3 linked regions of the Homo sapiens genome follow. The protein of the gene in region 1 interacts with the protein of each later gene in a pairwise test. Each region holds a gene or a part of one and is shown on either strand. Other genes may lie near its edges.

What was found.
Region 2: the proteins of ABI3BP (region 1) and MBNL1 interact in a two-hybrid assay, tested with the Homo sapiens proteins (one large-scale study listed by BioGRID and IntAct).
Region 3: the proteins of ABI3BP (region 1) and GOT1 interact in a two-hybrid assay, tested with the Homo sapiens proteins (one large-scale study listed by BioGRID and IntAct).

Annotation. Positions count from the first base shown.
Region 1 is NC_000003.12:100,832,853-100,836,513, reverse strand, and holds part of ABI3BP (target of Nesh-SH3 isoform 8 precursor), read left to right. Parts: intron 1-853; coding exon 854-913; intron 914-1,740; coding exon 1,741-1,830; intron 1,831-3,356; coding exon 3,357-3,389; intron 3,390-3,661.
Region 2 is NC_000003.12:152,463,444-152,466,280, forward strand, and holds the end of MBNL1 (muscleblind-like protein 1), read left to right. Parts: 3' UTR 1-2,337; downstream 2,338-2,837. UniProt on the Homo sapiens protein: Mediates pre-mRNA alternative splicing regulation. Acts either as activator or repressor of splicing on specific pre-mRNA targets. Inhibits cardiac troponin-T (TNNT2) pre-mRNA exon inclusion but induces insulin receptor (IR) pre-mRNA exon inclusion in muscle.
Region 3 is NC_000010.11:99,420,470-99,424,130, reverse strand, and holds part of GOT1 (aspartate aminotransferase, cytoplasmic), read left to right. Parts: intron 1-3,325; coding exon 3,326-3,507; intron 3,508-3,661. UniProt on the Homo sapiens protein: Biosynthesis of L-glutamate from L-aspartate or L-cysteine. Important regulator of levels of glutamate, the major excitatory neurotransmitter of the vertebrate central nervous system. Acts as a scavenger of glutamate in brain neuroprotection.

The sequences.
Region 1 (3,661 bases):
TCTGAAGATGCTCTCAGTGGTGGCTTAAACCAACTTTGTGCTATGATGTCTTGAGCAATAAGAGAAAGTCAGCCTCTCTATAAATGCCTAAAGAGTTTTTGAGGATGAGATGTTTGAATGTTACATTTAGCCTTCTGGGTTTAGTGAAAGATAAATGGAGATGCTAATACCAGAGAGTTACAATTCTTGATTAATTTTATATCTATGTATAATCAATTTCAGAATGTTATAGAAATCCTTTATATCTAGACAAAAAGTTGTATTATTACCTTTTAGACCTTCTTCTTAATTATCTCTGTTTTCTACTTGAATAATTATCTCCTAATTAGCAATTTGAAATAAATGAATAAGGAGGCAGAGTAAGAAGCAATATCACATTTATTACAAATAAAACGTACAAGACTTTTGCACAACTCTCACAAATCTCCAGTAAATAGACTGAAAACATCTTTCTAATTCTCCTCACAACTACCACTCTCAAAACAAATTAATAATGGTGGTGAAAACTTTTTAAATACCAACAGAAGCTTTTATAACAAATTTTTAGAGTACTTTAAAATTATATATTGGACAACTAAGATTTTCTTGGATCCAGGTTTTTTATGTTGTTGGAATCAGATAATGAAATACAGAAAAATATTTTTCATTGCCCTTATAGGGATGCAAAGGGTATGGGTATTTTGTGAAATAAATGGATATGATAGTTTGGCTACTTAGGGGAAAACAAATACTATTTTCCCAGAGTTCAGAAATGTATTTAAAACATTAAAGGGTTAAGAAGATTCATTTTCAAAATAACTTTGTTTTTCTGTATTTCTTAATCTCCATTGTTTATTGTATTGCTTTTGGTTAGTTCCCACCACAGACATTGAGCCTGTAACTGTGAGAACTGAGGCTACAGTGACAACATTAGGTAATGACCTCTTATGTCTTTAAGTATGAGTTTTTTCTGCTCATTGTCTAGTCTATTCCATCACTATTTGGGCTAAGGGTTTTTTCTTTCATAAGATTTTCTCATCATCCTCTTGTCATTGAACTATATTCTTCATTTTGAATGTATTGAAAGTGCTTAAAACAAGTTACTTGGTTATAAGCCCATACGCCACTAGTGAACAGCATCTGTGTCCCATTTTTCCCATATTATCCAGCTTTATTAATGCTTGACAGAGCCTGTGATTCTGCTCCAGTAGTGTTCTATGTTAAAACTGAATTTCAAATACAATTAGGAATGTCTGCCTGATAAATATCAATTATAATTCTGTGGGCATCTTACTTTCTGTTGTTTTAAGATATACAGAGAATTTTTATTGTCTACCAACTATTTTAGAAAACAAAATGTGTTTATACTAATAACTTGTAATGGAATGTGTGTCTGAGCCAAGTAATTTCTTAGTACGCTCTCCCAAAAGCAGGCAGGCCTGGGTCCCTCTCTGATGTGATGTCTACGTGCCTATGTCTGACTTCCCTTGGGTCTGGGCCCTCTTTGAAAATCCTATACCAGCAACTAATAATAAAGTTGCAGTTTATTTTTTTAAATTACATATATTCCATCTGTCTCAAAAGACCTGTCAGTAGACCAAAAATACATATTTTTGCATATAGATGATCAGAAGAAAATTCTAAACCAAAGAGACAAATTTCTCAAGACTTAGGAAAACTTTAGAAAACCTAGAACCATGTGTAATCCTTTCTTTGGTTTCTGGAGTCATATGACTACAATAACCAGTTTCCTTTCTTTAGCTCCAAAAACATCGCAACGAACAAGAACACGTCGTCCACGTCCCAAACATAAAACCACGCCACGCCCAGAGACACTGCAGACCAAACTAGGTAAATAATATGTGGTTCCTTGTCCCTGTGGCATCCCATTGGATGTGGCATGGGGGTGGCAGTTTAACATGCCACTTTATAACCCACTTGACCCTTGGGGTGAAGGCCCAAGTCATGGAAAGCAGCTGCTACCAACACAGTGCTCTGGCGATACCTGTGACTTCCTCATTCTGATTGCGTGAGGACCTCCTTGGTGCCTGGGAATTTTACTTGCTTCTCTGACATTCAATTACATTTTTCTCTTTGATTCCTCAGCTCAGCAAAAACTGACCTGATTAGGTGTCTAGTTAGCATATTTAGTTCAACCTGTCACACATTTTGAACGTTTGTATCTGTGAGGAATATTTTAGAAAAAAACAAATGACTTACCTGTGTGAGACTCTTCATAATAGATATACAGGAATGTGAGGAAAAGCAAATATTTATTAAATTTTACCAACTGTTAGGCACATCGTTAATTCTTAGAGAAGCAAAACATCTGTGGGCTGATAAGTGTAATGTGAACCTTTAGGGAGAACTCCATTTCTACAAAAAATTTAAGAAAAACTAGCCAGATATGGTGATGTGCACCTGTAGTCCTAACTACTTGGGTGAATGAGGTGGGAGGATCGCTTGAGCCCAGGAAGTCGAGACTGCAGTGAGCTACAATTGCACCCTTGCACTGTAGCCCAGGCAACGGAGCAAGAGCTCATCTTGTGGACCTTGAAATTTGTAGAGCCTGTAGATTTATTGGTGGATGGGTAGGAATCATATAAACAGAGGCAGGAAGGTGTCGTGTGAGGGTGACATTGGAAGGATAGGAATTGCAAGTGCAACCTGATTGTAAGAAAGGCAAAGTTCTTTTAGTTGGACAGTAATGCTGCTTTTGATGGGTCTACAAAGAGCACTTCGAATGCCTGACTTCGATGATTGGATTTGAGCCAATTGGCTCCAGCACGCTCTCCTAACCTAGAGGTCAGGCCTTTTCTCTCCTGATAACAAAGAGATGCACTAACAAGTTTGATGGATTGAATGACCCTCTATATCTGGTTCTTTGTATGCCTTTATTTGAACAGAGGTCTTGGTCTTTTTCCAAAGTGCACTCTCAACAAAGAACAGCATTATCTGTTTTAGTCATTCATCAGTGTATCTGCTTAAACATATCAGTAATTGCATCTATCATGAACTAGGGCTTTGTTTTCCAGTTTATAGTGTAACTACACTTTCACATTAGTTTTTCCTAATTTTTAAACATAACATTATTAGATGTCCTAAGATTTTTCTAAGCAGTGTTTTCTACTATATCATCAGATAATATAAAAATAAGAAAAACTGGTAGTTAACCATGTTACAGATGCTAAGGTTATATCTGTTTCATAAAAGCAAATAAATATGTACCCTCACTTGAGAACTTCAAAATGTTTGCTTTGTGGCTATAGAACCAACGCTATAATGGTAAAGTTCACTTTTCAAGAGAATGATGGCTTTTCTCGTGTGTTTAACATTTATTTCTTTTTAAAATTGCTTTTGATCATTTCTTGCTACAGACTTTGGACCTATTACTCCTGGGACATCTTCAGGTAATGACTCTCTATGTCCTTCAGCAAGTCCTTTTTCTTACTCATTGTCAGATTTTGCTATGGTGCTATATAGGCTATTGTACCATCTTTTGTTGTCATCTCATTACAGTATTCATCTCAAAATATGGAAAGCTTGCTTTTTAAAGAAATATGCAATGACTTAATTCAAGACAGCTATCTGCTCCATAGCCCAGCTTGAAACTGTGTCATGTCTGAGTCTCTGAACAATACTCTTAGAGCCAAGATCCAACTACAATTCCCCATATATTCCT
Region 2 (2,837 bases), about 52 Mb from region 1:
GCAAAAATGGTTTCACGTTTGCTTAAATGCTTCATCACAGTCACATTCAAAATAGTGACTCTAAACAAAGAAGAAAGCAGCACTGTCATCAGATGCATGATAAACCAAAATATGAAAATGGGAAATGTTTAATTAACCTAGTAATTGGGTGGGTTAAGTACATGGGTGAATTTTATATGTGATTTTTGTTTTGTTTTGTTTTGTTCAGATTAACTGCTTATAGCCTTAGAAAGCCTTTTACAAAATTAAAAAAAAAATAGATGTGCATTCAGTTTTTAAGAATGGAATCATCCAAAGGAATTCCTTTTTTTGAGGTTTGGATGTTGCAGCTAGTAAAGGATATTTTTGCTCTGTTCAGCAGTTCTAAAAATTGCTGAAGTAGGGGCCAGGTCACTGGTAGTTATAGTATGGAATGGGAGAAGTGAAAGTTCAGTTATAGAACTTTCCATACTTCCAAGTTTACTGCAAGTTTTTATGCTTGAGAGAGATGCTTTCTAATATAAGACTGATGTGTTGATTTTACTGATTGTACTGTACATCTATTAAAGCCTTAGATTATTACATTACGGGTTGGAACCCATACCAATGTAATTTCAATCGTGTTAAGAAAGTAATGGTGACTTCACATGTTATTGTAGTTAGTTACATTATAGAATATTACTTATTTTTCTTGTTAAAATGTAGTTTTTCATTTCCTACATTTATTAGATTTTCATTTTCTATTAACAATTGAATACCATTTCAGTTTATAGACTTGTTTTATTAGATTTTACCAATGAATTTTTCAAAATACAAAAAAAAGTAGTTTTTCCTTCATAACATACTCAGTTTTGAATTACATGTAGTGTCACATGAATATTCGTATTGTTAACTAAATGATTTATATTTTACTGATTTAATATTACAGTGTAAGAATGTCAGTCATTGTTAGTTCTTGTCTAGTTTTCATTAAAAGAACAAAGATCTTTTATATGGATATCTTATAAATATATAATCATTGCTAAGTAAGAAGTTAAGTTGTTGCTATCGCAACAATCCTGGCAGACAATTGAGTAATATTTTGATGATTTATTTTGTTTGTAATTAGTTATTATAAGAAGATCTAGATCCTAGATATTAGAATAAAATTTATTTTCTACTGTATCCATTTCAAATGTTAAAATATTGTTTAATATTTTTGAAATCCCTGAGTATCAGGCCTTGTTATAAATAAGCTGCATAATCAATAAATAGAACAAGGGACTTTTTGTTGATAATCCAAATACTCAAAGTTTACGTAATGAAAATTATAGCGTGTGTGCAAACTCTTGAGGGTTGATTATGCTGCAATTTAGCATGTTGGAACGTCTAGGGAGAAGGTTGACTTTTTGCACTTCTGTATATAGTCAAAAGAGAGAAACCTGTATAATAGTAAGATCTTATTTTGAATAAAAACGTCTATAATTACAAGGAGTTTTGTTAAGGCTAATACAATGACAGACTGAGCAAAATTGCTTGCAAAAGTGGCACAGAGTTAGCACTCCATACCCCTTCAAACATGTTGCTTTGCTTTCTTGTGGACAGCTTGTAGTTTGCCAGGATTTTTTCAGCTGGAAAGATACGCCATCCTTTCAAACCCTCATGACTGACAAAAACTCCATGGGGCCAAATCTGCCTGAAGATCATTACCAAAAATAGCAGGTACTTCTACCATTAAGGTGAAATCATGGATCAGATATTCCTTACATTTTTCAAAACTACTGCATGTTTAAAACTTCAACAAAAAAAGAGAGAAAGAACTATACTAAGAACATATATTATTCAGATCAGTTTCTGCCAATTTCAGTGGTTTATTGTTCACAAAAAAATCTTCAAAACAAGTATTGACTTTCACAAAATTTAAATCATAAACAGGCAAACCAAACAGCACACTGTAGCTATAGTTGTTATGTGATTGTTTTTTAATTGCTGTAGGATCCTGTTCTTTCAGCAGGTGAAAAATAAAACGCAGTTCAAATTTCATGGTTTTAATTTTCAACTCAGAAGCACTCAAAAATGCAAAATGTGATAATGGGCACTTGTTTAAAAGAATTAGTGTATCCAGCCTTCACTCCAGCTGGTTAAAAATGTTGCACTTATCAGCAACCCTACCACTTTCATCTGCTGAAAGGACAAATGTGCTTGGTTTTACTATTATGTAATCACAACTTACTTTCTGCTTGTAGTTGCTTAAAATTATGTATTTTGTCTTGGGCTGCAATTTGTTTTATGCTTATTTTATTATTACTGCAGTAGTTGACTTTGCTGTATGGAAAAATAAAGTGAAATTGCCCTAATAAAACTTCTCTTTCTTAAGTATATTCGTGTATCTGAGATTGAATACTAAATTATTTTTGCGTGTTTCATGTATTCATGCATATGTATCTATCTTTACAAACATATTGATGTATAAATTTGTTACCTGGTTTTAACTGATTGCAACTGCGAGGAAGGCATTTGTTGTCTTTCTCACTAATTATCCTTTGACACTGAGAGGGAGAATCTAAATCAGCATATATTGCCCTCCTGTGCCCAATGTTTTCTGAAATTCTTGCCTTCCCCTGTCTGACACTTTAAGCGCTGATTGAAATAGTTTTAAGTGTCAGGGCAAAAAACGGTAAGAAAAAAATTATTATACATTATAGATCACTATCTATCTTTTATTAAAGAAATCTTATTTGCCTGACTGCTGCGTCAGCTGATTAGGACTGGAAATCAGGCAATCCAAGAGAGGTGATGGCACTGTATTCAGAGGGATGAAAGAAATTATGCATATGATCTATGAGGCAGGCCATGATATTACTCCTGAGGGGTGTGTG
Region 3 (3,661 bases), on another chromosome or scaffold:
ATCATAGATATGTTGATGTGCTTTAGGGACAACTCTTACTTGGAAGTAGCTATTTTGGTACATCTTTAGAGAAGCCAGACCAAATCCCAGCTGGCGAAGGAGGCTTTTTGAACTTGTTGAGAAGTTTGGTGGACTAAGGGGTATATCATGAATGGTATGAGAGTATTGTGAGTTGGGCCAGGCATGGTGGCTCACTCCTGTAATCCCAGCACTTTGGAAGTCCGAGGCGGGAGGTTTGCTTGAGCCCAGGAGTTTGAGACCAGCCTGGGCAACAAAGTGAGGCCCTGTTTCTATGAAAAATTTAAAAAAAAAAAATTAGCTGGTCCTGGTGGTGAATGACTTTGGTCTCAGCTACATGGGAAGCTGAGGCAAGAGAATTGCTTGAGCCCAGGGGGTTGAAGCTGCAGTGAGCTGTGTTCGTGCCACTGCACTCTCACCTGGGCAACAGAGTGAGACCCTGTCTCAAAAAAAGAAAAAAATATTGTGAGTTAGATTCACCAGAGCCGGAGGGTAGACTATGAGTGGTATGAGAGTATTGTTTGATTCACCTACCCAGAGGCATTTGGTCAGTGGCTCTGTCAGTCTGTAGCCCTGTCCACATTTCTATTACTAACTTGAAATGTTTCTCAGATTTGCAGATGACATATTCCTGGAGGGTAGAGTTAGCTGATCATTCAAAATGATCTTATAAAGTCTTTTTACTGTATATCCTGTGACCTAATAAATTAACATTTAGATATTTTTCCTAAGAAAACACTCATGAATATGTGTAAATATATGAACATTTATCACAATGTTTATAATAGCAAATAATTTAAAGCAACACAGTTAATAAATTATATATAAAACAAATATTATTTATCCACTAAACTGATGTTGTAAATGGCTCATATTTATGAAAAATACCCAATTGCATTCATAATAAGATAAATGCAAATTAAAACTACTTGACATATTATATTGGCAAAAATACACTCAGTGCGTAAGGCTGTGTGGAAGCAAACGCTCTTAAACAGTGCTGGTGGGAATGTAAATTGATATAATTCCTGTATCAATTGGGACAATTTGGAAATATTTGTCAAAATTACAAAAACACATACTTCTTAGCCCACTCTTTTGTTTTCCACCCAGCATCTTACAGATATATTTGCATACATGTGAGATGACGTATGTACAGGGTCGTTCACTGAAGTATTGTTTTAATAGCCAAAGATTGTAAACAACTCAAATGTCCAACAAGAGACTGGCAAAGTAAAATATGGTACATTCATCAGCTAAGCAGCTGTAAAAAAGAACAAGGACGCTCTCTATGCGCAAATGTAAAATGATTTTCAAGTGGAAAAAGCAAGGAACACAAAACAGTGTATAGTATGCCGTATGCTACCTTTTGTTTAAAAGGGCATATGTAAGAAGCTGTGTTTGCTTGTGTAGGCATAGGGAAATGCAGGAAGGATATGTAAGAAACTAACAGTTGTTATTTATGGAGGGAGGGATTTGAGAACTAGGTAGATAGAGGATAAGAATGGGATGGAGACATGCAAACATGTCACCTATTAGAAGAATAGTTAATGAGGAGGAAAAATGCATAGTATATATTTAAATGGAAAAAAGCATGTTGAAATTCTATGTACAGTTTGATCCATATTTTATAAAAGAATATGCCCATCAAAAATAAAGCTTAGAAGGTTGTACACCAAAATTTTCATACTCCTTGTCTCTGAGTACTGGGATTATATGTTATGTTAGTTCTCACACTGCTATAAAGAACTACCTGAGACTGGGTAATTTATAAAGAAAAGAGGTTTAATGGACTCATAGTTCCACCGGCCATATAAGAAACATGGTTGGGAGGCCTCAGGAAACTTACAATCATGGAGGAAGAGTGAAGCGCAAGCAAGCACCTTCACATGGCCCAGCAGGAGAGAGAGCAAAGCGGGAGGTGCTATACACTTTTAAAAAACCAGATGTAGTGAGAACTCACTCACTGTCACAAGAACAGCAAGGCAGAAATCTGCCCCCATGGTCCATCAACACTGGAGATTACAATTCAACATGAGATTTGGGTGGGGACACACAGCCAAACTATATCAGTCTACTCCTGACCCCTATCAAATCTCATCGCCTTCTCACATTTCAAAACACAATCACATGTTAATTATAATGTTTATTTTTTACCTTCTGGGCTTTTCCCAATTTTCTACAATCAACACGTGTTGTTCAGTAAATGGTAACAACAACCCTAAAATGTAATTTTTTTTTTAAGTCAGGGATTAATTTTGGGCAGAAATCAAGAAAATAAAAATCAGTATCACTCTAAAATTTTGTTTCCATTTCAAAATCACTTGCGTAAGTGTAGGATTATTGAGGACCTAAACATTCAAACAGAGAGGCAAATGACCCCTGCCAGGAATCCTACTTGGACAGATTATTGGCGTGGGTGCAAAGCTAAGGTAACTGCCCTGTAAAGCTCTAATCCTAACATAATCATAGAATAGTGTAGGGAAAAAAATTGGTGCTGGATAACTCAGAGTGACTTAAAAATACTTTCAGAGGAAGAGGAAATGCTTAGAGGTTTACTGTAGAGCAGGATCAAATATTGTGAAATAGATCAATTTAGATCAATGAAAGGGTGAGGCAGATGAAGTGGGATGAAGTCAGAAGGGTAAACACTGGCTGAGGTCAAAATACAGAGAGAGGATAGAGATGTGTTTAAGTGGGTCCTTGGGTGATTGTGTCACCTGTCATTGAAATCGTCAGGGCATTTGCTTATCATTCGTCTTATTTCTGTTCCTCTGGGACAAGAGGAGTGGTGGGCCTTCTTCCACTCCTTCTCCATGTTTGTGTTAAAGGTGCCAGGTTCATGTGGAAGTAGCACCTAGGCTTTTTCTGGAAGTCTCTTGGGGAGATGCAGAAGGAAGAAGACTGCTGGGCCAATGGCCTAGAGACCTCAGTGCACTAGTGATATTGACATGACATTTGCAAGATGCTTTTTACTTTGCAGAGTGCTTTTCTATGTACTTTCTCATGTGACCAGGCTCTGTGATGTCCCAGTTTTATTTCAGCATTCTACTTTTTGGAGGTCACATAGTTAAGAGCTGTAAGTTCCACAAGGATGGGGACCACATCTGCCCTTATGTTTGCCCAGCACCTAGCCCAATGCTTGGCTCAAATTAGGTACTCAGTAAGTGAACAAACTTTTCTCCAATTTCCTTCACTGTTCTGTTTTGACCGGAAGGTGGTGGGATTCTCCTGGTTCACAGTTACAAACTCTTAACTTGGACACAGCATGAGCCTCCACTATGTATAACTCTTTTCCATTCTCCAGCATATCGCACGGATGACTGCCATCCCTGGGTTTTGCCAGTAGTGAAGAAAGTGGAGCAGAAGATTGCTAATGACAATAGCCTAAATCACGAGTATCTGCCAATCCTGGGCCTGGCTGAGTTCCGGAGCTGTGCTTCTCGTCTTGCCCTTGGGGATGACAGCCCAGCACTCAAGGAGAAGCGGGTAAGTTTTGGGTAAGGATGTATTTTCTCTTTAGAAACTGAAAGTAAAAAGATGTTGAGAATACAGTTTGTTTAAAATATTAGGCGTTATGTCTATTGAACTGCCAATGAATAAGTGTTTCTGTAGCGCGAGTTCAGGAACCTGATAGCGCAAA